Regions from separate parts of the Homo sapiens genome. Here regions 1, 2, 3, 4, 5 and 7 are each linked to region 6. The links come from fine-mapping of genetic effects on gene expression. A gene starts in region 6. Each other region holds a variant in brackets. All regions are shown on one strand. Distances are from middle to middle.

Region 1 (4,266 bases), 93 kb before region 6:
AACTGTCCCTGGCCACCAAGGAGAGCCAAGCACAGGATTGTTCCCCAGGCAGGTGTAAGTTTCGTGTGGTGGCATCTGGGTCAGAGTGCAATCTGTCTGCTGGGAACATGGTCTTGTTTGAGCAACCTTCTTGCTTCCCTGCCTTCTTTACACATCTATTGAGCACCTACTGTGGGCCCTTCCTCCCAGAGGTGCTAGGGGAGACAGTAGAGGTGATGAGGTCACTGTCCTGGCTCTTGGGGTTCCACAGATGGGTGGGGGAGAAAGCCCAGATGTGACCAATCACACTCAAGGTATCAAGTGCTGCGAGAGCTGTGGGGGTGTCCACAGAGGCCTCTCTGGGAGTAGGGGTGTCCCAGCCGTTGGGCACAGAAGAGGGGTCTGGCATCTGCAGACTGCATTGTGACCAGGGATGAAACTGGAGCACAGGGGCCTGTGGGGGTGGGGTGGGCTGGGTGGTGAGGAGCCTCGAAAGCCAGAGCGAGAGCACCCTGGGACCTAGCCCTGGGGAGCCAGGAAGTGACAGGAGAGGACCTGCTTCAGGTACGTGTCTCCAGCAGAAGAGACAGGTGAACGGAAGGACACACAGATGGACAGAGAGCAGGAAAGGGTCCAGGGAAACAGGGAAGAGGAAAAAGGCGTTTCGGCAGCACTTGGACGCGGTCACTGTGGTCATTGCCGCACCTTGGCTGCAGGGGGCTGCTTGCCTGGGCCCACAAGACCAGACCAACAGAAAGTGCCTCTGCCCAGGAAACTTACTGCCCGATGCTGGGAAAGAAGGAAATGTCTTCATTAAATCATCAAAGTGAGGGTGCGCAAACCACCCTGAAGCAATTCTGACCGAGAAGATGCTGCATCAACTTGGGGTGGGGGGACAACTGAGCCCCTTGCGTTTCCGTGGCGACCTTACTCTTCTGTCCTCCCAGGCCAAATATCAAAGTTCGAGAGGCCACAACTATGTCAGTCAGGGTGTGTGGGAATCAGCTGGCACATTGCAGGAGGTAATATGAGGACGATTTAATCAAGGACCATTTACAGAGGTGGGGGTGTACGTGAGGCAGTACAGCTCTAGCTCAGAAGCTGGTAACAGCTGGACACCACACCCACCCCCGCAAACATATCCTGGAGGCCCGAAGGGGCAAGGGAAGGGAGCTGTGGAGAACGACAGTCCACCATGGGCAGGTTCTCCCGTCCTGTGAAGCTTATGCCCAGCAAACCTGGTCTTCCTAATGGACCCCAATGCTGTCTGCCCGACCACAGGCTGCATTTAGTGGACCAGGCTGGGGGCCGCAGTCGGGAGAAGGGCCTTCCTGAGTACGCAAAGCTATAACTACAAGAATGGCCACTGCAGCACCATTGGCAAGAGCTAAAAGCTGGACACAAGCCGGATGGCCCGCGGATGGGGAGGGTCAAATGAACTACAATCCATCCACATGAAAACTGGGCGCTGCTACAGGAAGGAGGCTCCTTGTGTGCCATCAGGGAGAGGCCTTGGCGCCAGCTCCCTAGGAAGGCAGGCTGCCAGGCAGTATGTCCAGAAGGAGCTCACTCTGGTGAAAACAACAAACAAGCCATCAACACTAGCTGTGCAGGCAAAGGCACAGAGTCCAGAAGGAATAGTCCTGACTGTTAGCAGAGCTAACAGTCTTTCCTGCTCTCTGTCCATCTGTGTGTCCTTCCATTCATCCATCTCTTCTGCTGGAGACACTTCAGGGGCGCAGCTAATGTGGCGGGGGGGGGGCTTTCACCTTGTATTTTATATGCTTTGTACTGTCTTTGTTCACACTAAACATACAACCCCTTTAAAAGTCATTTATGGAGGCCGGACGCGGTGGCTCAGGCCTGTAATCCCAGCACTTTGGGAGGCCGAGGCGGGCAGATCACGAGGTCAGATCATCGAGACCATCCTGGCTAACA[C/T]GGTGAAACCTCTCTCTACTAAAAATATAAAAAATTAGCCCGGCATGGTCACACGTGCCTGTAGTCCCAGCTACTCGGGAGGCTGAGGCAGGAGAATGGCATGAACCCGGAAGGGGAAGCTTGCAGTGAGCCAAGATCGTGCCATTGCACGCCAGCCTGGGTGACAGAGACTCCATCCCGCCGCCCAAAAGAAAACATAAAAATGAATAAAATCATTTATGGCCGGGCATGGTGGCTCACCCTTGTAATCCCAGCACTTCGGGAGGCCGAGGTGGGCAGGTCACCTGAGATCAGGAGTCCGAGAGCAGCCTGACCAACATGGAGAAACCCCATCTCTACTAAAAATACAAAATTAGCCAGGCATGGTGGTGCATGCCTGTAATCCCAGCTACTTGGGAGGCTGAGGCAGGAGAATCGCTTCAACCTGGGAGGCAGAGGTTGCACTGAGCCGAGATTACGCCATTGCACTCCAGCCTGGGCAACAAGGGTGAAACTCCATCTCAAAAAAAAAAAAAAGTCATTTATATAAAAAACTACAAAAAATATGTTGAAGGGGGAATGAATAGAAAAAGATGCCAGTGTTCTTCCCTAACTGGTATTTGGCAATCGCTGAGCTGAACATTTACAGGGCAGCTGCAGTGTGCCAGGCCCTAGGAGAGCAGTACTGATCAGAAGGCTGCCTGCAAGGTGCTCGCCATCTACGGGAAGCAACAGCACGAGACGGGTGGGATGAGTGGGCATAGCCAGGTGACAGGGGCCTGGGGCTGTGGGGCTGGTTCATAGCAGTGAGAAAACCCTGTGGATGAGCATACTGGGCAGAGAGGCTGGGGAATGTGTGGGGTATTTCTGTCTGCTCTGCATGTGCAGGAGGCGGTGTTGGAGACAGGAACATGCTAGACTTGGCAGGGCCTCTGAAGTCCTCTAAAGGTGCATGGACACCATTACAAAGGTCCTAAGAGATGTATAGGCCAATGAGAGAGGGATGGAGAGGCAGCAGTGGGCACAGGCCCAGCATGAGTGCCAGAGGAGGGCAGTGCCATGTTCAAGGGCTGCAGAGTGAGTTACCCTAGGACAGCTGTGCAGTCTGCCTCCCGCAGCACACAGGTAAATGCACTGTCCAGGTGGGCCAGAAAGGCCTGAGTGGTTGTTCTGCACATCCTGGCCCACGGACCAGGAGGGCAGGACCTAGGGATCTCAGAGGTGCCAGAGATAGCCCTTCAGCCAGAACAGGTCTAAGAGACATTTTGTCCATTGTCCTCCAGAGGTGCTGGTCTGCCCAGGAACCTTGAGCATCCGTGGCAGAAGGACAGTGAGGCCTGAAGCTCTGAGACCCAGAACCATAAGTCCTGCTGACAACAGAAAACTCCCAGGGGGAATGGCAGGTGGCCTCTCCTTCAGGTGCTGACTTTGACAAGTCCAGGTTGCCTGGAACACTGTGACGGATCCTGGGGACACATCCAAGATCGCTGGGAAAGAGTGCAGGGTTGACTGCTGATGTGGGCCATGGCCGAGTAGTATAGACCGACGCAGGAGTTTGCAGTTCTGAGGCCTCTTGAGGCCAAAGGTGACTGTCTGATGACCCTGCAAATGGACTGGCCTTTTATGGGATCACCACAGTGCCTGCACTGGCCCGGTGGTGTGGGGCTCCCAGGCAGCCAGTGGGGGCCTTTTCTAGTGCCCAACCTGCAACGGACAAGTGACTGTGCCCTGGAGCTGAGCCCGGTGGGTGGGTGGAGGGACTGGAACATGGGCCTACAGCTTGAGGGCGACACGCTGCAGAGCTTGGGCTCCAGTCTCCACACCACAGTCACGGAAATTCCTGTCCGTGTGTGTGCAGGGAGCGGAGGCCTTCCACGCAGGCCCCAGTTAGCAGCAGCCCAGGCTGGAGGGCCTCTTGCTCTCCTGGGTCTCGGGCGGACTCCCTTCCATTTCTGTAAGGAGGGGAGAAGTAATTTAGCATCAACCAGGAATCCTGTAGCTGACACTGGGCAGGGGATGCCGGCCCTGACAGTCAGAGCTGTGAGCTGAAGCTTCTGGGCCTGCTGTTCAAGGCCTGAATGGCCTGACACAAGCCAAGAGAGGGCCTTCCAGGCACTGGAACAGAGAGGGCAAAGGTGCAGACTGGGAGAGCCGGGGCCAGGACACATCTGCAGAGCCTGGGACGCCCAGCCTGGGCTATGAGGACCTCATGGATGCCCATGAGGTCCATGTGTCAGGAGAACAGGGAGGGCTAGGGAGGGTGTCTGACCTGGCAGGTGGAATCAGAGGGGCTACAGGCCTGAGGCTGCAGTGACACCCTGAGAGGAGGGTCAAAGGACAGGAGAGGGCCACAAGTTCAGGAAATGGCAA
Region 2 (4,000 bases), 29 kb before region 6:
GGAGCCCAGTGTGCCAGCCTGGCCCTGCCTCTGGATCTGGTCAGGAGGCTCTGCTGTTCCAGGGTCATGATAACTTGAGGATGCTGCAGACAAACTGCATGTGGCCCTGGCACATTGCAAGATCAGAAGGAACTGCTTGGGAGACCTGTGTGTGTCGGGAAAAGGGCGGCAGGCCTTCTGGCTTGGAGCTATGCCCTTGACCAGGTCAGGAACAGGAGGCAGAGTGAGGCCATGTTCTGCTAGGGCTCCCTGTGGTCCTGCCACTGACTAGGCCAGGAGACAAGGGGACGAGGGGAGTGTCAACCTTCACAGCCACTCACCTCTCCCAAGCCCAGGTGTCACTGTCCTCCACTCTCCTGAGGGAAGGCTGGCTACACAGCAGCTCCAAGGGTGGAACCCAGTCTATACCCCCAAGGCCCTTGCTGGAGAACCCCAGCACCCACAGGATGTGGGACCAGTATGGTGAAGAGGGGGGCCACTGGAATTCCCAGGGGCCAGTGCCAGGACCCTCCCTGAGAGCCAGAGTCTCAGCCCTGCGGTATGTGAAGGAACCTCTCTGAGGCTCAGTTTCCTCATCTGCAAAGCCGGCTGGTTAGGAACACTAAAGGATATATAAGGTCCCTTCTCAATCTAAGCCCTGGTATGCTGGGGAGAGGGTATCATCTGTGTCTGGCTATTGCCCATTTGTAATTCCCTCCTTGGGCAAATATAACCAGCTCTGTCATCAATAGGTATAAGCCTGTCTTACTGGAAACACCTTGTTTCACCCACAACACGCCATTTTATGGCACAAATGTTTAAACTCCATTTTAAAAGCACTAAAACAAGCACCCTTTTTGGGCTAAATGATAAACCACAGCGCTAGGGTGGCAGGAACACGCTGTGTTCACAGGACGGCCTTGGGCAGCCCCTCCTCAGGGTACTGCATACACTCCTGTTATGGACGAGCACCCATAGGGTCTCCTTGGGAAGGGCTGAGTGTCCCAGCTGCTCTGCACCCAGAAGCCAGGGCTCTGGAGCTCCAGCTCTTCCCAAGCCTACCGCCTCCCGCCCGCTCCACAAAGTCTGCAGAGCACCCACTGTGTGCCAGGCCCTCTGCTCAGAGCACAGGCTGTGCCGGGTGGGTGTGGACCTGCCCTCGTGGTGTGCTGAGGCTGCTGACCTGCCCTGGAGTGGGGAGGGGTTCCTCAGGAAGCCAATGGCCCCAGGACAAGGGACCACTATCCAGGGCCAGGCATAGACCACCTGCCTGGAGGCTGGCTGCTCAAGCACTTGCCACCTGCAGAACTTGCCCCACAAAAGGCATGTTCTTATGTCCCCCGTCCCCTGGATACCCTCACTGATAACATGTTGACCAGCTGTCTCTCAGATAAGTGGCAGAGACACCAGGCCTCCCACGGTGAACCCTGCTGTGACCCAGCCTGCCTGTGGGGCCCAAGTGACTACTGTGGGTCCTAGATGAAAGCACAATGGGGACACTGCTGGGAACTGCTGCCTGCCAGCTCTAGAAAGACAGGGCAGGTATCCCTGGTAGCAGAGGCTTTGTGGAAATGAAGCTGTAGCTGGGCTGGTGTGACTGCCTCCTCCTTGTCCCCCAGTTCCCTGTGCTGCTGGGAGAGTTGTGCTCACCCTCATACTTGGCCCCAGCCTGAGCCTTGAGCCTGCACAGCAGGTCCATCACAGGTGCAAAACAGACCCGCCACAGGGCTGGGAATGCTGACAGCTCCGTCGGGAAATGGGCAGTGAGCTCCCTGTGGGTTTCCACATGAGAACATTTGATGCTTTACAACTAGACCTTTTAATCTTGCCTTCTGAAGGATCCCACACCATTTGGTGGCCAGCAGAGTCCATTAGCTGATCCGCAAGGGCAGAGGTTGGGCAACAAGTGCCCACCTACCCCCTCAGGTGCCTCCAGTGGGGCCGAGTGAAGACCCAGGCTCTGCTGGTCACAGCCACCTGTGTCTGTCCCTCAGTGTGGGCTGGTAGGTGCCAGCTTCTCCACTTTGCCTTTCCCTCCTAGGGCAGCAGAGTGACTGTCTTTGCTGACTGACCCTTGTGTGAATGTACTAAAGACGAGGGGCAGAGCCTCTGCCATGGCTCTGGCTAAGTGGGAGGCCCGTGGTGGGTCCTGTGACACATGGCCTCTCAGGAGCTGTCCTTGTGGACTTGAGGGCTGGGGGCCCGCCAGCGCCAGCTGTGTGCCTGAGCCTCAGTGCCTCGATCTGTGACAAAAATAACAGGCGCTGCTGCCCCACAGGATCATTCAGGGGACAGGTGCGCCAGAAAAACCCCCTTGTGTTGCTGGGCTGTGTTCAGGCCTCCTGTGCTGCCTGAGGAAGCCCCAGCTGGGTGTTGGGCTTGGGGGCACTGGGGTGCCTGACACACCTGCAGGACTTGGCCCTAGTCAGGGCAAGGGACTGCCAATTCCTTCGGACGAGGGTGGGAACCGTGG[C/G]CATGGAGGGGCGTGGCTCCCCATGTGGCTCGCTGCCATGCTCCACAGACACCCGGAAATCTGCCTTCCCTGCTCTGAGGTGCTGCCCTGCACTCACTGCAGCCCTCACACCCGGGAGCCCAGAGACACTGACGTTCTCCTTGGCAACGTGCTGACGCAGAAGCCAGCGGGTGGGCCGGGGGGCTGTGGCTCCTTCGCCAGGCGTGGGGGTGGGGAGGCACTGCCAGCATCAGGGAAGATGAGGCCTTGGAAGCTGAGCACGGAAGGAGGGCTATGGAGGAGCCGTGTCCAGAGCCCTGGCACTGGGCCCCAAGGTTCATTCGGCTTTTGTGAAAACGAGCATGGCCTGTTCTTGGCTGCCTTGCCTTTGACAGGGCCCAGGGAGGACAGTTCAGCACGTTCCAAAAGGAGAGAGCAGAGTGGCAGCCCTGTGCCAGCCCGTGCCAGCACTGGCTCTGGCCCTGGCCCGGCTGGAGACGGGCTGTCCTCACTGCCGGCACCACTCTGGGGGCCAGCTCACCTCCGGGGCCAGCCCAGCCTGCGGGAGGAATCGCGGGAGGGGATTGTCTTTCCTCTGCAGCCTGTTTGTTTTCCATCTCCAGATATTACTGGTAGAGCATGAAAGGTCAGAATCATTTGGAATCCAGTGAATTTCCAGCCTCGCTTGGGTTTCTCATCAAGAATTTCCTTTTCTGGTGAACAACCACTTCCCCAGGCCTGCAGAAACCAGGGTGATGGTGGTGGGTGTGCCAGCCTGGCTGCCAGCCCCTCCCTTTAGAAAGTGCCTTGAATGCCTGGAACCTCACAGGGATCCCTGAGACCAGGCCAGTGGCTGCTGTCCCTGCCCATGGCTGCCCACCATGGCTCTCCCCAGGGACAGGCCTGGGAGAGGGAAAGCTAGAGATGTGAGGCCCCACAGGGGCCACCCAGCCCATCTAGGGCCTGCCCCGAGGAGCTCACTCACACATCACTAGATGGAGGAGTAAGCAGGTGCCGGGCTAGGTCAGAAAAGGCCTCCCAGGAGGCGCCACTTGGGATGAGACCTGGAGGATAAGGGCAGGGGTACGAGAGGCAGGGATCAGGATCATTACAAGCTTAAGGCTGGACAGAGCAGTACTGCTGGAGCAAAACAAGCTGACCACGGCTAGAGCAGAAGGAGAGGAGAGAGAGGCAGCAAGGTGGCAGGCACAGGCCAGTAAGAGCCAAGAGGGCTGCAGGCAGGCAAAGGCCTAGCCTTGGGCCCATCTGTGAAGACACCTGGGTCATCTCCTCACTGACAAGTTCAGAAAGCAAACATGACAGCCAAAGCCCTCCATGAAAAACTGGACTGACTCAGGACCCAGGTATCCTGCCTCCTGTGTCCAGCACACCTGTGGGCACGGCCTGTCAAAGGATGCAACTGGGAGCCAGGCCTGGTGCCCGGGGAATTTGCCACGCCTGCCACTGTGGTGATGGGTGAGGCCAGTGGCGCAAGCCCGTGTGACTGGCAGACCCACCATGGCACTGTCCCAAGGGTCTGGCCTGAGCACCTCACTTTGCCTTGCAGCT
Region 3 (4,000 bases), 24 kb before region 6:
AGTCAGCTGCGGCGATGCGCTCCAGGTCGTTCAGGTAGTAGGCCGCGTTGTCCTCCAGGTGGTACTCGCTGGAGCGGCTGAAGCAGGCCTGTGCCCCTGGGTCGGCCCAGAGCCGTCGCATGACACCCAGCAGCTCGGGTGTGATCTCGCCCTTGCTCTCAGCGGGGCCCGTCAGCGCAAAGAGCTGCACAGCGTCGTAGGCGCGGTCGGGGTTGTGGAAGTCGATCCTGAGGGCGGCCAGGGCCCGGATGATGCGGGTCAGCGAGTCGATGGCATTGTAGATGATGAGGGGCTTGTACTCCTTGCAGGCCTCCAGGTTGAAGCCGCCGCTGTGGATGATCTTCATCTGTTTGACGATGGTGCTCTTGCCTGAGTTGCTGGTGCCCAGCAGGAGCAGCTTGATTTCGCGGCGTTGCCGCTGGCTCTCTGAGCGCAGGTGGCGGTCAATTCTCCGGGACCGCCGGGCTGCTTCTTTTTCCTCTGAGCTTTGCCGACATCCCATGGTCTGGCAGCAGCGGGCCCAGACAAGGAGCACGGGATGGGGCACCTCTCCCTCTTGCCACAGGGGACACTGAGACCAGGCAGACAAGAGCCCAGCTGCCCTGGAGGCACTCAGTGCCAGCAGGGGGGTGAGGCCGAGCCACACTGCAGCCCCTGCCCCAGCGCCTCTTCTCCAGCCGGCATGGCGCTCTGTGCAGCGGGCGGTGGCCGCCCCTCCCCACTAGTGACACTCCACCTCCCTAGTTGGCAAAGTGGCCTGATTTGCCGTAGTCATTCCCTGTCCTCGGCGACGGTGGGAAGCCGTCCGCTTGTGTTTGCCTCGGCTGCTGCCGTCTGGTTGCTGGTTGCTGTGGCGATGTTGCTGAGTGGCTGGAGGGTTGGAGGGCCGGTCGCTGGTGTGCTCCCTGCAGCCCCCCGCCTCCGGCTCCCACTGTGCATCCAGCCCTTCACCTGCCAAACACAGAGAAAAGCGTGAGCCTCCTCCCCGCAGCCCCACCTCAGGCTGGACAGTGAAAGGGAGCTCTTCTGAAAGCAAAGCAGCAGAGACTGGCCTTGGAAAATGAGCCGGCAACAATCCATCCAACCCCCTCTCCTCCATGGGGCGCTGTAGGGCCCACACCATGGTGTAACACATATGTCTGCTGTTGCCTGGACAGTCCACCTGAAGCCAGGTGCATGAGGGAGAGGAGGGTGTGTGCGAGGCCTCTGCCCACCCAGCCCCCATGCTGGACTCACTTCTACCGCATCCAGTTAGGATTCAATAAGGTCACCCTGTTGTGATGCCCCCTGGGGCCCTTCTCCCAGACAGCACTGATAGAGCTCAGCCTTGCCCTGTTTTACACGGGTGGCCAGGCCTCGGCCCAGCCCTGGGATAACTGAGCGCCTCCCTGACTCTCATTACCCCCGCAGGAGCTGGGTCACTTCTGATCACAGGGAGGAAAAGCACCAGGAGGGAGACCTGGCCCCTGCTTTCCCTTGAGGGCACTCTGATGGGCCAGCCCAGGAGCCAGCAGATAGGCAGGGACCAGAGCAAGGTGGAGGCTTCAGGCTGTGGGAGCACCGTGAGGTGCCTAAGCACAGTGGGCAGGGGCTGCCTCACTCCTGCAGAAGGAGGTAGAGGGGGGCTTGGGCTGAGACCAAGGAGCTGGGGGCTGCACGTGGTGCTGCGGGGAAATCCACCTGGGAGACCAGATGTCACAGTGGCTCCCAAGGGTAGTAGTAATCACCGAGGCCAGGGCAAGGCAGGGTGGCCTAGAGGCCTCAGGCAGAATCTTTCACCAACCCCGCGAGTCAGG[GC/C]CTCCCCATCCACCTTTCCTGCCAGCAGGGAGGGGCACACCCTAGGATGCCCCTGTGACTTTGCCGGGTGCTTAGGCCAGGCCTCCCCACACGAGGGGCAGCTCAAAGCTCAGGCTTCTTCCCCGGCTGTGAGCCCAGGGTGGCACCAGGCCCCACCCAACTCACACGCACCCCTCTTGCTCCTTCCCTGACCTATGTCCCTGTCCGGAGACCCACGCAGCCTCCCCATCCTGCCACAGGCAGCATTCGCCCCTTTAATACCACCCATCAACTCTGTGACAGGCCCTGGGGTGGGAAGGCCCGAGGCAGAGAGACCCCAACAGCCAAGGCCCCACCCTCAACTCCTGGGTGTGACCAGCATCTGAAACTCAACCTGCTAAACCCTCAGCAAATGGCACTTCATCCTCCCAGCAGCCATCCGTGCCCCTCACTGTCCCTTGCCCCTCACAGACCTTGACCACTAGTCCTGGCGATCCTGCTTTGAAGCAGGCCCCTGGTGGGCTGTCCTCTCCCTGGGCAGAGGTTCTGGTCTCTCCTGGCAGTGGTGGTGGCCTCTCACACCTGCTCCCTAGCCCTGCCAGCCTCTGACAGCCAGAGGCTCTAATGCCGCCTCTTTCCCTTGGTCAGACCCTGATATTACCCCCACCACTCTCAGGGTGGTCTCATCCTTCATGCCTTGCTTGCCTCTCCCAGGTTGTGTGGCCTCTGGCGACTTACTCCCATCTCAGAGCCTGTCCCTCACTGGCCACAGGTATCTGTGAAGAGTAAAGCGTCCAGCACAAGCCTGGTCCTCAGAGAGTGACAGCCAGTAGCAGTCACTGCCCTGCTGTGCTTGTCGCTGTGAGCGTCACCTTGCCCTCTGTCCTCCTCCTCCATAGCAGCCCTCAGCTAATGTGTGACCTACATGACCTTGTGTGCTGCCGTCGCCCCTACCCCCAGCCAGAGTGCGGGTGAGGAGGGCCCGTCCTGGCCTCGTTCCCCACTGGGAACAGAGCAGTGCCCAGTGCACAGTGGGTGTTCAGTAAGCACTGGTTGGTGGAAGGAGGGAGGGAGGGAAGGAATCAATGGAGAGGCTGAGGAACTTTCCCGCTTCACCAGGCAGCCACCGATGAGAAGTGCACCAGGGAACGCCCTAGAAACATCTCTGCCAAGAGGGCAGTGATTAAACAGTCACTCAGCCCAATCCCAGTGAGGCTGAAAATTACATCTGAGAATGGAAGCCTTGAGATGACCCTCCCACTCCAGCACACAGTGGGCAGAACATCTGCTTAAAGATGACATGTACATGATATGTGTAATATGCACACGAACCATGAGCGCATGGAGGATGGAGACCCTGTGGCTGCTCCCTTGTCCCTGCTGACGACCTGACAGCCCCTTAGGTGTGGAAAGGTGTCCAAAGCCCTCAGCCCACTGCCTGGGGACCCAGGGTTCTCCCTACCAGCACCATCATTCCAGCAGGAAGCCAACATGCTCCTTTCAGAAGGCAGTGTCCAACCCAGTGGGAGGTGTCCTCTGTTGTCATGACTGTTCTTCTCAATTCCACGTTTGAAAATCTGAGGTACAGCCAGGCGCCCCTTCTGTCCCCAGTGGTGGGCAGAGAAGCTGCTCTGTCCAAGGATGTGTGATTTGTGCTTTGGGATGTATGTGCTCCCTGGCTCCAAGGCTGGGGAATCAGGAGAGCAGGTTGGGGACACTGGGCTGGCAGCCTGGGCCCTGAACTGCTGTTGTCTGGAAGCCTGGAGCTAAGGGCTGCTCATGCAGTCTTCGATCAGTGTGCGCCGGCAACGACAGGGCAATGTGCAAGGAAAGGGGAAACTGAGGCCAGGTAGCAATCACATGCATCAGGGCCAAGTCTGTCACCTGCATGGGGCAGTGACGAACAGTCACAACCAAGGGGAGGTCCCCTGCTTGAGGACCCTCGTCTTTCAGATCACCTGAACCAAACAAGCAGAAGGCCCCACCCAGAATTCTCCCTGCGGCTCTGTGGGGCTGTGTTGTGTTTGGGGGTATGAGCGCCCTGTGCAGGGGCACCACGCATGGGACAGGGCTGTGCACGGATGTAAGGAAGCCTTGCGTTGGGAGCCTGGCTGTGGTTCAAATGGGACCTTATGACAGTCCCACCTATTCTGAGGCTTGACTTCTTGGCTCTTACACAAGGCTCTAGCCAGCCCTCTCTCTGAGTCTAACCCGGGCTTTACTG
Region 4 (4,000 bases), 220 kb before region 6:
ACTCATGTGTTACCAGCCTTCACTGTTCTGACAGCTCCAGTAGCTGGGGGAGACCCCCACTTAGAGGGAAAGGAAAAAAAAAGTAGTATCCATCCAGCTCGACAGAGCAGCCAAATCTGCTCTGCTGTGGGGTGAAGGTGCACTGCTGACAGCCCTCCTGGCTTGGACCCCACACTCCCGGGCACCCCTGGGGATGTCTGTCAAAGTCCTTGCCAAACCCCTGCAATTACTCGATCCACCTGCAGGGGGCAGCTCACCAGCTCCCAGGATCTGAGACAGGCTAGGGGAGAGGGCAGAGGCCACTCCGGGAAAAACAATTCCACACCCAGAAGGCATCAACCAGCACAAACACTCCACAGCGGCCAGGGTCAAAGGTGTCCCGTGGTCATCTGAACAACCTCCCTGTTTCCCCACACCCTGCCCGATGAGTCCTTCCTGGGTGGAGACCCTGGCTCGGCCGCTGCAACCCTCCTCCCCAAACCAGTACTTACTTGAACTCTGCTTAAATCCAGTGGCTGAGTGGACGATGACATTCAGAAACCCATAGAGCCCCGGAGACTCATCATCTGCGCAAGAGATCAAAGAGGTCAGCTTCTGTTGTCCCGGGAAAGGGAGGCAGGTGACAAGCTAACTCTGCTTCAAAATCAACCATCCGGTGGACACTGTGTGGCTGCCATCTGCCTGGCACAAGGTAAGCCAGTGTCATGGGCCAAAAACATACTCATCATGATTTCTGTCTTGGGGATCTCAGGATCCAGCTGGTTTCACAATACAGGCAAACCAGTGACTCGAAGTGTAATAAGGTTCCAAGGACAGCAGAGGGGGTCGGGGTGATGTGGGATGTGGGTGGGGTGTGTGTGGACACATGTGCATAGCGTATGCTGTGTGTGTGACTGAGCATATGTGCAACAGTGAATGCAAAACAGCTTGACCAAAAGTGCCGGCTGGCAGGTAGCTGGAGGAGAGGAGGGCTGGGAGGACGGGAGTGGGGCCAGATCCAAGGCACAGAGCATCTGAGGAGCGTCTGCTGCAGCCTTGTGACTAGGAACAGAAGCCGTGCATCTCCTCAACCACCCAGCAGCAGCCACTCAGGGAGAAACTGCTCCTAACCCACCTTGTCCACTCCTGGGAGGAGACAAGAGGCCCTAACAAGCATAGCTCTTCCTTCTGAACCAAAGTCCACTAGTCCCATCAAAAGTGCTAACAGGAAGGGGGGATCAGCCTTCAGGCTAGCTGCCTGCCCTCCCTGCAGGTGCCCTGTACACGGAAACGGGGGGGCCCACCTTCCTTATTGATGGTCAGCGGAATGCTGTGGACAGTCTGGAGTTTCACACACGAGTTGGTCAGCATCTGCAGCTCCACGGATGTCAGGGAGAAGCTTCTGAAACCTGGGAGGTTGGAAAAGAGGTGCACCAATTGGTCAATCTGCTCCTTGGCCCTCTGGCCCCTCCCACTGGACCTCCACCACACACCCTGGGGAAGGGGCACGGCAAGAACTGGTGCCAGGGCTTGGGGGCTCAGGAGAGGGCACTTGGCTCTCAAGTGCAGTGCTGGTCTGGCGGCAGAGTGAGGTGTGGCCCTGGAGAGCCCAGGCCTGGAGGAGTCTTAGCATGAGACTTACAAACACACACATCCCACGCTACCTAAGCACAGCCACAAGGCAGGTCTGAGAATGAGTGGCTGGACTGGGAGCACCTCCCTGTGAGGTCTCCCCATACAGACAGCAGCATGGCTCTGCCCGTCCTCTGCTAACACAGGCCCCCGTTTCTCCACCAGGTGAGGAAAAGGGGCTTATTTCTGGGCATAATGCTGAACAGGGAACAGAGGCTGCCACTCTGGAAATGGCTGGGGCTCCTATGTTATGACAGGAAACCCTGGGACACAAGCACTGGCAGGGCTGCCCGGAGATCCTTGATCCCCCAGGCCACGGTGGCATTGGGGGCC[G/A]AGAGGTGGCTCTGCATAGGTGAGAATGATGAGCCTGAGGGCGCGGGAGGTCAGGCCAGGCCAGAGGCATGCAGAGCCCCAGCTCAGGGTGAATCCCAAACCTCCAAGGAGGGAACCGGGTCTGCCTTCCCCACCGACACTGCCAGGCAGGACCCGAAGGAAGGAGCGCCCTGACAGAGGGAAGTGCCCAGAGAAGGAAGGGGCTGCCCCAGACAGGAGGGAGCGCCCCTGAGCTGAGAGCGGGCAACCCCGGCCATATGAACAGGGCAGTGGGGCCAGCACAGTGTGAATGCCCAAGTGGGCCCAGCCAAAGGCCCCTTTAGCATCAGCACCTGCTGGGGCAGGGAAGGCCCAGGGGGCGGGGAGTAGATGAGGAGAAATGGGGGAGGCCAAGAAAATGGGGTGGTGGCAGGGTCCCAGAAAGGACTAGGGGGCAGGCCGGGGGTGCGGTGTATGGGCAGCAGACTAGGGGGAGATGGCAGGGGTGTGTGTAGGGGCAGGTGTGGAATCTGGAAAGGGCCTGGGGAAGGGGGATTCACAGGGGATCACAGGGCAGTGGGGAAATGAGTGCCCAGGTGATGGGGGCAGGATAGGCTGGCAGGGGAACAAGAGGGCTGGGGGCCTATCGGGATGGCTGTCGCCAACTTCTTTTCTAAATTAGCCCTCCATGCAACACTTCACTTGGATAAAACCCCTCGAAATAAAAAAGAAGGTTTAAAACCACAGGAGCTGCCAGCCTGGCCCTAATGGTTTGAAGCCCAGCCCCTCTCAGGACAGAGGATACTCACACTTCTTCTGCTGCTCCCGGATGTTCTCCCTCCACTCTGCACGCTCATAGTCAGAGGAGATCAGGAACGTGTAACTCTAGGGTGGGCAAGAAGAACACACCCAGTTATCTCCGCCCTGGCTACGCAAATGCCTGGTAGGCCCGGGGCACCTTAGAGCACACAACTCGTATCTCCAGCCGGCTGGAGCCCAGTGGCCAGGTGTGCTCACGGCCTGGCATGTCGCTTCCGGCACTCCCTACCCTTCCTGCCAGCTGGGTGCCACAGCACCTCTGGCACACCATCTCTCACCCGAACTACATGGGTCAGGGTGTGATGCTGGCAGAGGGGCACAGCTTAGGGACATGGAGGTAACCAGGTGGGATCTGCAGAGGTGAACGTTGATCCAGACCTGACCTCCTGCATTCAATTCACAAGCCCCACACTAGCCCAGAGGTGAGGCTTCTGCAGAGCCCACCAGCTGCCTCTCCTGGTCAGGCTAGAAAACAAGCCATTCTGGACATTGACAGACATGTATTGACAGGAGGGAGAGGCCCAGGTTACAGATGGCAGCAGGAGCCAGACTCAGGACAGAAGGTGTGTCTCTGGCCCTCAAGGCCCCAGGACAGCATCCCTGTACCAAGGGCCAGATCTGCACAAACCTGCTAGGCTCCCCTGCCCTATACCCTCCCTGGAGACCCTGTCCACTCCCAGCTGTGGGAGCTGAGCCAGCTGCCACTCAACCTGGGGGCTACAGCCCAAAGCCCCAGACAAAGGAATGTGCGTGCTTGCATGCACCATGCCGGACATGCCTCTCTCAGAGTGGGGCGCATCCAAGTGAAAACGCACTGCCATTAGGCAACCAGGAGCCCATCCCAGGCCAGGAGAGCAGGAGGGGCCGGAACAGCAGGCGCTCACCTTGCCGTTGCGGCTGTGCACCCTGAAGGCCATGCTGGGAGACATAAGCAGCAGCAGTGACTCCTGCTCCGACAGCTTCTTCTTCAGCCTCTCCGTAGCCTTGCTGCCCTTGTTCGCCCTCTGTGGGGAGATGCCACAGCCTCACCTTCCCATTCCAGCGCTCCACACAACCCACTCCCATTCCATCCATCCCCACCACCAGCTGCATTCAGCCTGCAGAGGGCAAGAATCCCATCTCTCCACTCAGCACAGACCAGGGCCCCAGACCGCAGTTGCTGGTGGCCTCTGGAGGACAGAAACAGCTTTTTTACAGGGTCAAGGCATGGCATAAGCTGCAGGACATGCTCAGTAAACCTTTTTTGGAGGAATTAAGT
Region 5 (4,000 bases), 190 kb before region 6:
AGGGAGCAAGAACTGGAACAAATTAAGTGCCTTCTGTGTTCCTCAAGCCTTAGCTCTGGCCTGGAGTCTGGGGGTCTGCAGCACAGGGTGGCAGAGGGAGGGGTCCCCCTACAGGAAAGCCACACCTCAGAGCAGAAAACTCAGCCCCCAGCACCAGCCAAGGGGAGGCCCGAGGCCAGAGCTGTGTGTCTCGGTAGTCCAGAAGTGCTGGGGGAAGGGCTTTTAAGGAATCACATGCTCTTCACACTTAGAGGGGGGCCTGGCCTCTGGCCACACCTGCCCCTAGAGGACTTGTTTCCCAGCGGAGGAAGCCTGCTTTAGGGAAAGTGTGTGCACACAGGGTGTGATGGTGCACACAGGGTGTGATGGCGCACACAGGGTGTGATGGCGTGCACCTGTAGTCCCAGCCACACACAGGGTGTGGTGGCGTGCACCTATAGCCCCAGCTACGCGGAAGGCTGAGGCCGGAGGATGGCTTCAGTCAGGAGTTCTGGGCTGTAGTGCACTACACACTAAGTTTGGCATCAATATGGTGACCTCCCAGGAGTCGGGAACCATCAGTTTGCCTAAGAAGGAGTGAAACAGCCAAGGTTGGAAAGGAAGGAGGTCAAAACTCCCGTGCTGATGAGCAGTGGAATTGCGCCTGTGAATAGCCACTGCACTCCAGCCTGGACAACGTAGTAAGTCCCCATCTCTTTTTAAAAATAACTATCTAAATAAATATAAATTAGAAAAAAAAAAAAAAAGGCTGGGCATGGCGGCTCACGCCTGTAATCTCAGTACTTTGGGAGGCTGAGGCAGGTGGATCACTTGAGGTTAGGAGTTTGAGACCAGCCTGGCCAACATAGCAAAACCCTGTCTCTACTAAAAATGCAAAAAATTAGCTGGACGTGGTGGTACACGCCTGTAGTCCCAGCACCGGCCCTGGGTTACTCACCAGCTTCTGGAAGAGGTCGCCCACCCGCTGCTGGTGGCTCCACTGCTGCACGCGGGGGAAGAGCCCATCATAGAACTCCTTGTGGATCTCGTAGAGCTCAGGCACTTTGAAGAAGATGGTCTCGATCTGCTGACTCGTCAGCACCGGCTGAGAGGTGGTGGCAGCGGCTTTCAAAGGCTTCATGGGCTGGAAGAGGGCACAAGTGAGGTAGCACAGGTGAGAGGGGCTGCCATCCGTCAGGTGCATTGTATGGCAGTAGACAGTCATGGTTACCTGACATATGCACTTTTATTTTTAAATCACATAACAAATACAATTTTAAAACCAGCTTGGTTTGGCAACTCAGTCTTCCACTGGTATCCACTCCAGGGATGGCGAGCTGCACCCAGGCTCTGACAGCTGACCTGGGACTTAAGGGCAAAGAGGCTCCCCAACCCTGTCACCCTGCCCCATCCCGCCCTGCTCAGCTCCCTAAATCCTCCTCACCAGCAGCAGTGCCTCCAGGTGGCTCAGGTAAGTCTCCTCGCTAGCCAGGATTCCCGACAGGACCCATTTTCTCATCTCCAAGCCCTTTTCCAAGTCCAGCTCACTCTGCAGGAGAAATAGACAGAAGTCAGCCTGGAAGGGTGGTAGGGGGATTCTTCCATCAGGGCCCTCTGAGAGAGGAGGGCCAGCTTGTTGACCTCTGGACAAACCCCTGCCCCCACAAAGGCTCCACATGGAATTAAAGGGAGGCAGGGGACCCTCCGCACATACTAAGCCACACACTCACAGTCACTGAGAATCCCGGGGAGGGGGGTCATCTGGCAACACCAGGGCCACCCTTACTCTTGCCAGACCACGAAACAGAGTTTGGTGCGGAGCAGGCTGGGCCAGGCCTCCCTCCACGCTTCTGCATGCAACCCAAGGGCAGCTGCCTGACACAGTCAGGGAAGGAGAAGGAGGCTCTGACCTGAGGGGGCGTCAGAGCCCACAGCATGGCCACCTGGCTTCTGCTGCAGCCAAACTCCACTCCCCACTGCTCACCTGGGGCCCGCCTCACCTGGATTCTCTGACTGCTGCCGCCACATGACCCTTCGATTGACGGGGCCCAGGCAGCACCGCCTTCTCCAGATGCCCTCCCTCCCAGCCACAGGGACTGCTACCATCTGCCCCAGAAGAACCCTGTCCCTGGGGCTCAAGGCCTGTGTCCCCTGACCCTGCTTTTTAGACCCTGACATCACTGGACTGGCAGGGACCCTCTTACATGTGGGCTATGACAAAGTCCCCCCTTCTCATTAGCGTCCCTGCTGAAAGTTCAGGGAAGCT[C/T]TACTGTTTTTGTCTCCAAATGATGAAGCTGACACATTGTTGGATGTTGATGTAGGGGACAGAGCCCATGCCCCTGGGAGGCCACCTTCTAGTCCTAGTTATGATAACATCTCCCCTCCCCACTCAAATTCACGTGGAAGCCCTAACCCCCAGTACCTTAGAACGTTACCGTATCTGAAGGCAGGGCCTTTAAGGTAAACTGAAGCCAAAAGGTTCCATATGTCACATTCTTTTTTGTTTTTTTTGAGACGATGTCTCACTCTGTCGCTCAGGCTGGAGCGCTGTGGCACAGTCACAGCTTACTGCAGCCTTGAGAGCCCAGGCTCAAGTCATCCTCCCATCTGAGCCTCCCAAGTAGCTGGGACCTCATGCACCCACCACCTCGCTCTGCTAACTTAAACATTTTTGGGGGGTCCAGGCTCAATGTCTCACGCCTGTAATCCCAGCAGTTTGGGAGGCCGAGGCGGGCAGATCACCTGAGGCCAGGAGTTCGAGATCACCAGCCTTGGCCAACATGGTGAAACCCCGTCTCTACTAAAAATACAAAAATTAGCCGGGTGTGGTGGCGGGCACCTATAATCCCCACTACTTGGGAGGCAGAGGCAGGAGAATTGCCTGAACACAGGAGGGGGAGGTTGCAGTGAGCCGAGACCATGCTGTGGCACTCCAGCCTGGGCAACAAGAGCGAAACTCCATCTCAAAAAAAAAAAAAAAATTTTTTTTTTGGTAATAGAAACAAGGTCTTGTCATGTTGCCCAGGCTGGTCTCAAACTCCTGAGCTCAAGCGGTCCTTCTACCTCAAACTCCCAGAGTGGTGGGATTACAGGCATGAGCCATGTTACCCCACCAGGACTGGGGTGCTTGTAAAAGAAGAGGTCAGGACACAGACTCAAATGGAGGGAACATTATGTGAAGACACATAGAGAAGACAAGCCCAGGAGAGGGGCCCGAGAAGAAACCAACCCTGCCCACCCCTTGATCTTGGATTTCAGGCCTCCAGGACTAGGAGAAAATAAACTCCTGTTCTTTAAGCCCCCCAGTCTGTGATGCTTTGTTACAACAGTCCCAGCAAAGGCATGACACCAAAGATGATGATGCCAAAGGCCACAGAAATCGCCACCTGACTTCCTGGCCACTCCCGCCTACTCCCTGGCCACTGGCAATGTTGGAGGCTGGCCATGCCCATGGCAGCACCTCAGTGCTCCACCGGGCTGAGGCCGTGCTCCCTTTGTTCCGCCTGTGCCCAATGGCCCTGCCTGCAGTCAGAGGAAAGTGTGTGGGTGCGGGGGGTGGGGGTGGTGCCAGGTCCGGTGTCTGTGACAGCCCCGTCCACTTCTCCACTGGTTGCTGGGCTCACAGGCGTGGAACTGGGGCGGTGGTCCCTGATCACTCACTTTCCCACTTTCGGGGAAAATCACTGGCTGCGGGCAGGCTTCTCGTTGGCCCCGCTGACATCTAGGCCCGGAGGAGTCTCTGTCAGGGGCTGGGTGGCATCCTGTGCCTTGCAGGATTCTGTGCAGCATCCTTGCCTCTACCTATCGTATGTGAGTAACACCCTCTCCCCCGAGGTGTGGCAGCCACAATGTCTCCAGGCGCTGCCACACATGCCCTGGGAGCAGAATCACCTCCAGTGAGAACTGATGGGTTTGAGGAAGGATCTGACTGAGGTCAGCTCAGGCCTCATGGTATCTGTAGAATTTGGAATCAGGGTCCCAGCACAGCCCCTGCCTACTCCCAACCCTGCTGTCCTATTTC
Region 6 (4,000 bases):
GTTAGAGGAACACACAGGAAGACTTTTAAACCAGATGCCAGCATCTCCTCATTCCTAGAGAATGAGGCTTGCTCAAGGCGCATATTTTATCCAAGCACCGCCAGGCCATCCACACCCCCACTGCACCCCGTAGATGGATGCTCCCAGGCTGCCACGATTACTGCTCTCAAACATCCACATCCCAGAGGCACAGAGTCACTAGCTAAGCATCATCCCCGAAACAGGCAACTCAATCCTAACAAGGGGGTTGCCTGGGTGGTTACCCAGTGCCCTGGCTGTGCCCGAGGGAGAAGTGCCTGGAAGCACAGTCTCAGACTGCAAGGAGCCTTCCCCAGTCTTTAAAGCTAGCTCTTCTCCAGGCCCACCCCAGCTCATGGGGTCATGGAACTGCTTCGCTTTTACAGATGAGGAAGCCGTGGTCTCCACCATAGCCACAGTTAACCAGCAGTGGGGTCATTCCACTTCCCAGCTCCCTCAGCCCCGTGCAGCCCCCACCGGCCTTTCCCGCCATACCTCCTCCTACTCCCCAGGCATGCTAAGTGCTCCCATCAGACCTAACTGCCCAAGTGCCTCGGTCTATTCTCTCCTCTCTGCCCACAATGCCCAGCTTAGCTGTGCCCATGTCCTTCAAGCTCCAGTTCAAATGTCATGTTGCCCACGAGCTCACCTGACCCCCCAGCCCAGGACACCACTCTGAGGTCCCTCCCGAGGCCCCTGCACCTGCACTCAAGCGGGGTTGGTCGAGTAGAGACGTTTTCCCCTATGCGGTGGTCAATCAGTCCTGGGAGGGCAGGCCCAGTCCACTCCCACCCGGTGCACCCCAGCGTCAAGCTCTGGGGGAGTGACCACTCAATAAATATTTGCTTAATTGAATTTGGCCAAGGAGCCTTCTCCAGAGAGCTCAATCCCCAGGGCAGGGAAATCACTTGGGCAGAAAGGAGCCGGTCAGGGGCTCAGCTGTCTCCCCAAGCAAGACAGACCTCTCTACCAGGCGGGTCCCTCCACCCCAACACGGACTACGCGGAACGCTGGTCTCGCTTGGCATCATCCTCTTGTCTCAGTTAACAGGAGCCCCCATTCTCGGCCTAGGCCGAATCCTGCCATCATCACCCAGGAAGGCTCAGCACCGCCCTAAAGGCAGAGCCCCCTCGGATCGCCCGCAGGATACGGAGCGCCAGCCCTGAGGCCCTCACTCCCCTCCCCCAAACACCCCCACCGCCTTTTAAGGGAAAAAATATTGAGCCGGGAACGTATTACAATCGCAGCAGGTCGATACTCATCTCTTCCTCTAAATGCCTGTGAGGAACCTGCTCGCTGCAAGAGCAGTGACCGAGAACTGCTAGCTGTCCGTCTGCGGGCCCAGGTCCTCGGGCCCAGGCCTCTGGGGCCCTCTCCTCGGTTTCAGGCAAGGCCCTGCATCGGCTCCGGCCGCCCCTCCCTGATCCTCCCCCTAGGGAGACCCGCCTCAGCGCCGCTCCCGCAGCTCGCCTGGCCCGCCCGGGCTCCGCATCAGCCGCTGCTTGGGGGCGCCCGGCGGCCCCGCGCGGCATCCCCGGCGCCCTCTGTCCACCCTCCCGGGTCCTCAACCGCCCCCTCCCGCGGGGTCATCGGCTTGGCGGCGCATCCCTCCCCCAGCACCTGCCCGACCAGAGGCCGCCCCCTGCCCACCTCGCAGGCGTCCCCGCCCTTGGTGTCCCCCACCCCTGAGGGGCATCCCTGACGCTGCGTCCTGGCGGATCCGGGGCACAAAGGCCTGGGAAGAGTCCCAAGTGGGGGCAAGGTGGATGCCCCGGCCGTGCCCCCGACCCCTGAGGCTCAGCGGCGCGCGGCCGGCCGCGGGTCGGCTCACTCACCTCCGGGCCGCAGCACAGAGCATCTGCCGAGCTGCTCCGGGCAGGGCGGGGCGGGGCGGGGCGGCGAGCACGGGGCCGCGGCGCCCTCGTTCCGTACGACGCGGGCAGCGGCGCCCACGCGGGGACGTGACCGGACCGCGGGCGGCGCACACGCTCCGGCCGGCCTGGTTCCCTCCGCCCGCCCTCCCGCGCCGCCCGCCGCCCGCCGCCCGCCGCCAGTCCGCGGGTCCGCCCGCCCCGCGCCGCGCCGCCGCCGGCAGGGGGCGGAGCCGCGAGCGCAGCCCGTTGCCAGGCCAACCGCGGGCGGGGGGGTGCCGCGCGCCCGCCGGGCACCACGCGCCGGGCACCTCCGCCCCGCCACGAGCGCCGGCCCTCTGTCCATTGGGCACAGGCAGCTGACGGACGGGCCAGTAGCCCAATGGGGACGGACAGGGGCGGGGTCGCAGCTCCGCGCGCGCCGCAGTCCCGCAAGAGCTCCCCGCGCCGGCGTTCCACCGACTCCGCTGCGCTGAGGCCTGGTAGCCGAGCCCCAGGGGCCACCTCTGGCAGCCCGGGAAACCAAGCCTGAGCCCAGCCATGGTCCTGGCCCTCTTTACTGCAGCCAGTCCCGGCTCGCCTTCTCTCCACTCGGGTTCAAACCCAGTTCGGCCTCTTGTGAGCTCTACGTCCTTGGGCAACCGACTGACCTCTCTCAGCCTTTCTGTTTGCAAAGTGGGGCTAGTGGCACCTGCTTTCCTGGATTGTCTCACCAATCCTTCAGAACGTGTGAAAGGCCTATGCAAACCCTAACGATTTACACCGGTGAGGTTTGTGCAGCGATGGGAGGGAGCATTAGTCATCTCTGCCGCCGCCCCCCGCCGCCACCGCCCAGTGTCTAGGGGCTCTTTGGCGTCCCTGGCAATCCTGGCACACGGAAGGGTGGCCTTGGGAGGGAAGGAAGGGAGAAGGACCGAGGAGCTGGCCCCCAGCCCAGACAAGCGTGAGAGAGCCAGTTCAGTTAAGGCCACTGATTGGCGCTTTTGGGAAGCTGGTGGAAAGCATCAGACCCTCAGCAAAACGCAGCTGAACCCAGGCTGCAAAATTCTGTTTTCAATTTCAAAGCCTATCTGTGGACCTCAGGGCCAGGAGTCCCTCAGTTCCATGCTTAAAAGACTCTCAAGCCAGAGGGCCAAGACATGAATGCTCCTGTCTCTCTTCTCCATCTTTGTAAATCTGAAGCTTTGTGTATCCTAGAGCATCCCTGACAAAGTGCAAATGCCTTCCCAGCTAACGCGTTCCTTATCACCTCACACCTTTGTAAGGTGTGGATCATGCCATTCTTTGAGCAGCAGCCCTGGACCTGACCATGGCAGAGGTCCATGGAGCGGTCTCTCCATCATAGCTCTGTGGTGGAGGGGCAGGGGCATGTGCCTGGCTTTGCCAGCTGGACACTGTGGCATCTCAGCATCATCCCATAACCTCCCTAGGAATGTTTCCTCTTCTGTGAGATGGAGACCATTGCGTTACGTACCTGCAGGGTCATGGGCCACCTGTGAGGGTGCTGCCTCAACTGTCAGGAACAGGACGTATATTTGTTATGGGCATCATGGAGGCGAACTTAGTGCTCACTGGAGGTGTCCAGTGAGGACCAAGGGAATTCAGCCAATGGCTGAGGGGCTAGCTACCCTTTGTGCTTGCCTTCCACACCACCAGGCTGTGTCAGGCTGGACCTCTTGCCAGGAGGACCACACAGAGACCGGCAGCTGTGCTACCTGGCTGAGCCTCTGTTTCCTCTTCTGTCAAAAGGGAATGTAACAGACTGTGGTCAGAGGGTGGCTCTGAGGGTTAATGTTTATAGGAAATGCATATTAGCATGTCTTGGGATAGCCAGAGGCTGTTTCCACTGCAGAGTCTGGGGGTCAGAGTTGAATTGTTTGCAGAGGTAAGCCCACATGCAACAGTGAGATGGCCCTTTCCAGTGGTCCAGAGCAGAGGCTAGCCTGCGGAGGGGTCCACTGGGGCTGGCTGACACCTCCCTGACTTGACCTCAAAGTAAGAGAGGGACATCTCACCTGGCATCAAACCAATATTGTATTCATGCAGCAGTCACTTACAGATAGCCTCCTCCACCAGGGTATAGTTGTAGGCACAGTTCTAGGATTCAGACC
Region 7 (4,000 bases), 44 kb before region 6:
CCCAGGGACCAGGGACTGGGCCGGGTGGGAGGGACACTGGCCTGCTCTGAAGCGCTCTCCCTCCTGCACTGCAAATGTCCTCAGGTGCCCTGTCACAGGCGCGTAGCCACGTCATCCCCTCACTGCACTTCTGGGCCCCTCAGGCGGACAGGCCAGCCCTTCATGACCCAGGTGTCTTTTTCCCTCTGCACCCGCAGCTCCACCTCCAAGTTACTCCTCGTTCCCACAACTCACTGTGCCTCGAGTAGGCCAGTGGCCCCCAGAAGGCCCCTCAGCCCCTCACCTGGCAGCCTGTTGCCCTGTGCCCCTCAGTGAGGAGACGGAGGTCATGGCAGCTTCACGAAGCAAGGCTTACCCAGGCAAACGCACACACAGACGTGGTCCTGGGCACGTGGTGAGCACATGACAGAGGCTGGCACCTGTTTGACTGTTTTGTTGTTTGCTGTGGGACCCCAGCGGCCTCAGGGCCCATCTGGCACATGCGCGGCACCTTCCTGGTGTGCTTGGCCTGGCCCAGGCCCTCAGCCAACCGCACTGCCTTGTCATCTTCACACAGGGCCCAGGGGGTAGGGGGATCAGGGTGGTGATTATGACCACCACCCTCCCCTTGCACAGATGAAGGAATGAGTAACTCTGCTAGGAAAACTTGAACAGAATTTCCTGAAGTGAGCAATCATGTACTGTGCTTCAAATAAACTGAGGTTTAGAAAATAAACTGAAAAAGACCCAGTCAAAATGGCTCAAACATGAGCCCCGGCCCCCAACTTCAGGTGGGGCCCCTCCATTTGCAGGGGTGGCCAGCAGTGCTCAGGGCCTCATGCCTGCTTCACGCATCTTCTGCCTTAGGGGTCACCGAGGCATCACTGAGGTGTGGGAGGCCACCCTGCAGGGTCACCCCACCTTCCTGTTCTAGGAAGGGGTATGTTCTGGGCCTCCTCCTCGCTCCCCTCTGGGCAACCCGAGACCCCCTCCAGGAGGCCAGACGCACTCCCAGATTCCCATGTCAGCTCCCAGCAGGTAGGCAGTCCTCAGGGACACTGGTCTTGTCCAACCCCTTCCCAAACCCTGACCCTTGCACACACCCCAGAGATGGTGGGACCGTCACCTCCCTACTCTGGATCCATGCAGCCCCAAATCACACTGGTTTGGGGGCAACCACATGCAAACACCTACTCAGGCTGAACGTACACCATCAGCTCAGAGCCTTGTCACATACCTCAGCCAGGTGAGGGGCCCCCGGACTGTGTTGTATTGGGGAATAGGTGGGTGATGCCAGTGTGATATGGCCACATGGCTGGGGAAGGCTCTGTACTGACCCATCTGGTCTCCCTGTCCACTCACTCTCCACTAGGTCCCTTACTCCACAGGACCCCATGCAGTTTGCTGTGGCCACAGCACAGAGCAAGGCCAGCTGGCCCAACTAGGGGCCTCAAACCTCACATAAAATGCACGTGACATTAAGGTTTCAGCTCTTCCTGGAACCAGCATCATCCCTGGGACACAGATGACCTGGAACCCCCAGCCCTGCCAGCTTCTGAGATGCCTTCATGGCAGTCCCCACTGCCCTCTCCCTTTCCTCACCTCCCTGGGCAGAGGCTCTCCAGGTGCTCTTGTGTGAGGGATGGAGGCAAGCAGACAGCCTTGCTCTCAACAAGGTGGGTGAGGACAGGCAGGAGGGAATGCTGGAGCCGGTGTGGCAGCTGCGGAGTGGCCAATGCAGGCCCAACCTCCTGCTCTGCCAGCTGTTCTGAACCTGTCCCCCCTCCAAAAAAATAACCACACACACACAGAATATGTAAGCATACTTCCCTCGTGAGGGGGCTGAGGGCTGATGTGGGATACACATGGACAGCTTAGTCCCCACACCCAGGCACAAGTGACTGTGAGCAGCTGGCACTGCTGCAGATAGTGCTGGCCAGCTACAACTCTGACAGGTGACACACCACAGGAATGCAGGGGGCGAGGGGTAATACAAGAGCAGGACGTTTTGACTGGACCTCTGGGGGCTGAGGGGAAGGGAAGGCATTGCAGGAGGGGCTGGCAGAGGCACAGAGGCATGGGGATGCAGCCGCATTGCTGGGAAGGGTGGGGCCGGGGCCGGTCTGTCCCACCCTGGGCCTCAGTTTCCTCATCTGTAGAGCAAGTCCTCAGTTCTGTTACAGACTGAGAAGCTCAAGTCAGCCCACTGTAGAAAAGCTGGGAGTGTTCATCCGAACC[G/A]TGAATTCAGCTTTTTCACGCCGAGAGCAGAGCTGTGGGGCGGGGTTGTAGACATGAATGCGCTCCATTCACCATGGACAGGCCAGCCCTGCGGCCACCCAGCCTGCAGCTGAGCCACCAGGCCTGACCAGGGCCACCGAGTACCAGGCTCTGAGGGCAGCACCCTGACTGAGGGGCCGAGGCAGAGGTTTCATACAGAGATGAGCTTCATGCTGTCACCTTTCACAAAGTACCGGCCAAGCCTCTCACCCCTCTGGGCCTCCCTTTGTGGTGGAAGCTTGGGGACACCTTGGTGGGGCTGCCTGTCTGCTGGGCAGGGTGTGGCTGGAGGGACATGGGGCACTGCTGACACAGTGACCAACATGCCTCCATCGGTAGCGGGTGCCTGCCCTTGGCTGGCACTGACTGCCCATCTCCATTTCCCAGAGCTCTGTGTGACAGGCCTGGTGGGCAGGAGCCTCTGCAACCTGCCTGGGCCATCCTGAGTGCTGCCGAGGGGGTCTGGGACACAGGCATTCCCAGACTTCTCTAGTGGGGAGAGGGCGAGTGGGCCCCACCATCTGATGATGCGCCGAGGTCCTGGCAGGTGTACCGAGTGGAGGGGCCTGTGGTGTTGGCCCCCTGTGCTAGATGCCTCTGCAGCTGTGGAACAGGGAAGGCACCAGAGGAAATCCACTCCAAGGATGGTATCAGTCGCAAAGGAAATAGCTTATTCGCTTGCAACCCCGTGCTTCCCCAGCCAGTCCTGGAATCCTCATCAGGAATTCCTGAGTTCACTTCCCTTTTGGGGAAGCTTGTAGGTGCAAGCTCTTGGCCTACATCTACCCTCAGGCCAAAGGGGTATGGGCAGGAGGCTATCCGAGACAGCTCAAGGTGGTGGCAGCAGCTGGGAGCCAGTGTGTGAGGGGTTGATGGGACTATGAAACAGGGAGGCGGTGCTGGCCAGAGTGCTGGGGTGGGAGCCGGGGTAAGATCTGTGGGAGAGAAGGATGCTGGGACCAGCAGGGCCTTGCCTGGGCACAGGGCCAGGTGGCGCTGGGGCCCCAGCTGTTGTAAAGATGCAGTTTAGCCAACGTCAGAACACTCAGCTGTCTTCCCAGGGGAGTTGCAGCCACAGCAGGCACCAAGTCCAGCCAGCTGTCTAACATGTGTCTTCCTGGCCAGGGTCAGCCGCAGGGGCAGGGTGCTAGCCTGGAGGTGAGCCCTGTGAGGTTCCAGGCAGAGGGGGCTGCTATGCTCAGAGCAGGTCCCCTTCTTCTGGTAAAATGGGCCACGTCAGACCTGAAAGCTGGATGTTCCTATCAGAACGCTCCCTGCTCCTGGTCTCTTGGCTGGTATTCCATGGCACAGCACAGCATGGGGTAGCTCTGCCCAGCTGGAGCTGTGGGGTCCCCAGACCAGGCCCCTGCCTTCCTGATGGGTCCACACTGGCCACCTTGCTCCCTGCAGCCAGGTCCCTATCCCCACTGAGGGTCTTCTGTGCTTCAGGATCTGACCTTGGTGTCCGTCTCTGGCTTCTCCTGGCCAGGCTCCCCATTGCAGCCAGTCTACAGGTCGCAGCTGCATCGTGCTTACCTTGAGCACTTGCCATTCCCACCCCGCTGGTGTTTGTCCGATGCTCCATTTCTCAGGAAGTGGCCCTGTCCTTGCTGGAGAAGGGGGTCTCCCTGCCACAGTCCCACCCTGACTCCACCAGGAGCTCAGCCCAGCCTCCTGCTAAGTGTCCATCTCGCCCTCCTGCCGTGGCCACAGACCTGCTGTGTCCAGGGCTGTCATACCCCTG

What was found.
Region 1: its variant is fine-mapped to the expression of GNAZ in whole blood (TOPMed, PIP 0.96).
Region 2: its variant is fine-mapped to the expression of GNAZ in whole blood (TOPMed, PIP above 0.99). The same link has a PIP of 0.9 or more in caudate.
Region 3: its variant is fine-mapped to the expression of GNAZ in substantia nigra (GTEx, PIP above 0.99).
Region 4: its variant is fine-mapped to the expression of GNAZ in whole blood (TOPMed, PIP 0.97).
Region 5: its variant is fine-mapped to the expression of GNAZ in whole blood (INTERVAL, PIP above 0.99).
Region 7: its variant is fine-mapped to the expression of GNAZ in whole blood (INTERVAL, PIP 0.99).

Annotation. Positions count from the first base shown.
Region 1 is chr22:23,161,082-23,165,347 of GRCh38, reverse strand. RAB36 (RAB36, member RAS oncogene family) reads right to left here. Exons shown (of 11, transcript NM_004914.5): 11 at 1-3,848. The coding sequence ends at 3,784. It also overlaps a transcript of RSPH14 not described here. Among named protein-coding and RNA genes, the nearest start is that of BCR, 17 kb to the left of the region's middle. The variant C/T (reference allele first, on the strand shown) is at 1,918.
Region 2 is chr22:23,097,781-23,101,780 of GRCh38, reverse strand. All of the region lies in intron 4 of RSPH14 (radial spoke head 14 homolog), which reads left to right. All of the region lies in intron 2 of GNAZ (G protein subunit alpha z), which reads right to left. Among named protein-coding and RNA genes, the nearest start is that of GNAZ, 29 kb to the right of the region's middle. RefSeq lists an enhancer at 1-386. The variant C/G (reference allele first, on the strand shown) is at 2,453.
Region 3 is chr22:23,092,198-23,096,197 of GRCh38, reverse strand. The region is part of intron 4 of RSPH14 (radial spoke head 14 homolog); the gene reads left to right. GNAZ (G protein subunit alpha z) reads right to left here. Exons shown (of 3, transcript NM_002073.4): 2 at 1-951. The coding sequence starts at 502. Among named protein-coding and RNA genes, the nearest start is that of GNAZ, 24 kb to the right of the region's middle. The variant GC/C (reference allele first, on the strand shown) is at 1,797.
Region 4 is chr22:23,286,905-23,290,904 of GRCh38, reverse strand. It overlaps BCR (BCR activator of RhoGEF and GTPase), which reads right to left. Exons shown (of 23, transcript NM_004327.4): 11 at 3,627-3,746; 12 at 2,733-2,808; 13 at 1,284-1,388; 14 at 492-566. LOC107985554 (a long non-coding RNA gene) reads left to right here and starts at 377. Exons shown (of 3, transcript XR_001755448.2): 1 at 377-691. The variant G/A (reference allele first, on the strand shown) is at 1,945.
Region 5 is chr22:23,258,478-23,262,477 of GRCh38, reverse strand. BCR (BCR activator of RhoGEF and GTPase) reads right to left here. Exons shown (of 23, transcript NM_004327.4): 3 at 1,424-1,528; 4 at 938-1,123. It also overlaps the pseudogene RN7SL263P. Among named protein-coding and RNA genes, the nearest start is that of LINC02556, 66 kb to the left of the region's middle. The variant C/T (reference allele first, on the strand shown) is at 2,246.
Region 6 is chr22:23,068,424-23,072,423 of GRCh38, reverse strand. GNAZ (G protein subunit alpha z) reads right to left here and starts at 1,905. Exons shown (of 3, transcript NM_002073.4): 1 at 1,854-1,905. All of the region lies in intron 4 of RSPH14 (radial spoke head 14 homolog), which reads left to right. RefSeq lists enhancers at 1-323, 324-1,204 and silencers at 1,811-1,950, 2,091-2,230.
Region 7 is chr22:23,112,484-23,116,483 of GRCh38, reverse strand. The region is part of intron 4 of RSPH14 (radial spoke head 14 homolog); the gene reads left to right. The region is part of intron 2 of GNAZ (G protein subunit alpha z); the gene reads right to left. Among named protein-coding and RNA genes, the nearest start is that of RSPH14, 28 kb to the left of the region's middle. RefSeq lists an enhancer at 2,797-3,700. The variant G/A (reference allele first, on the strand shown) is at 2,218.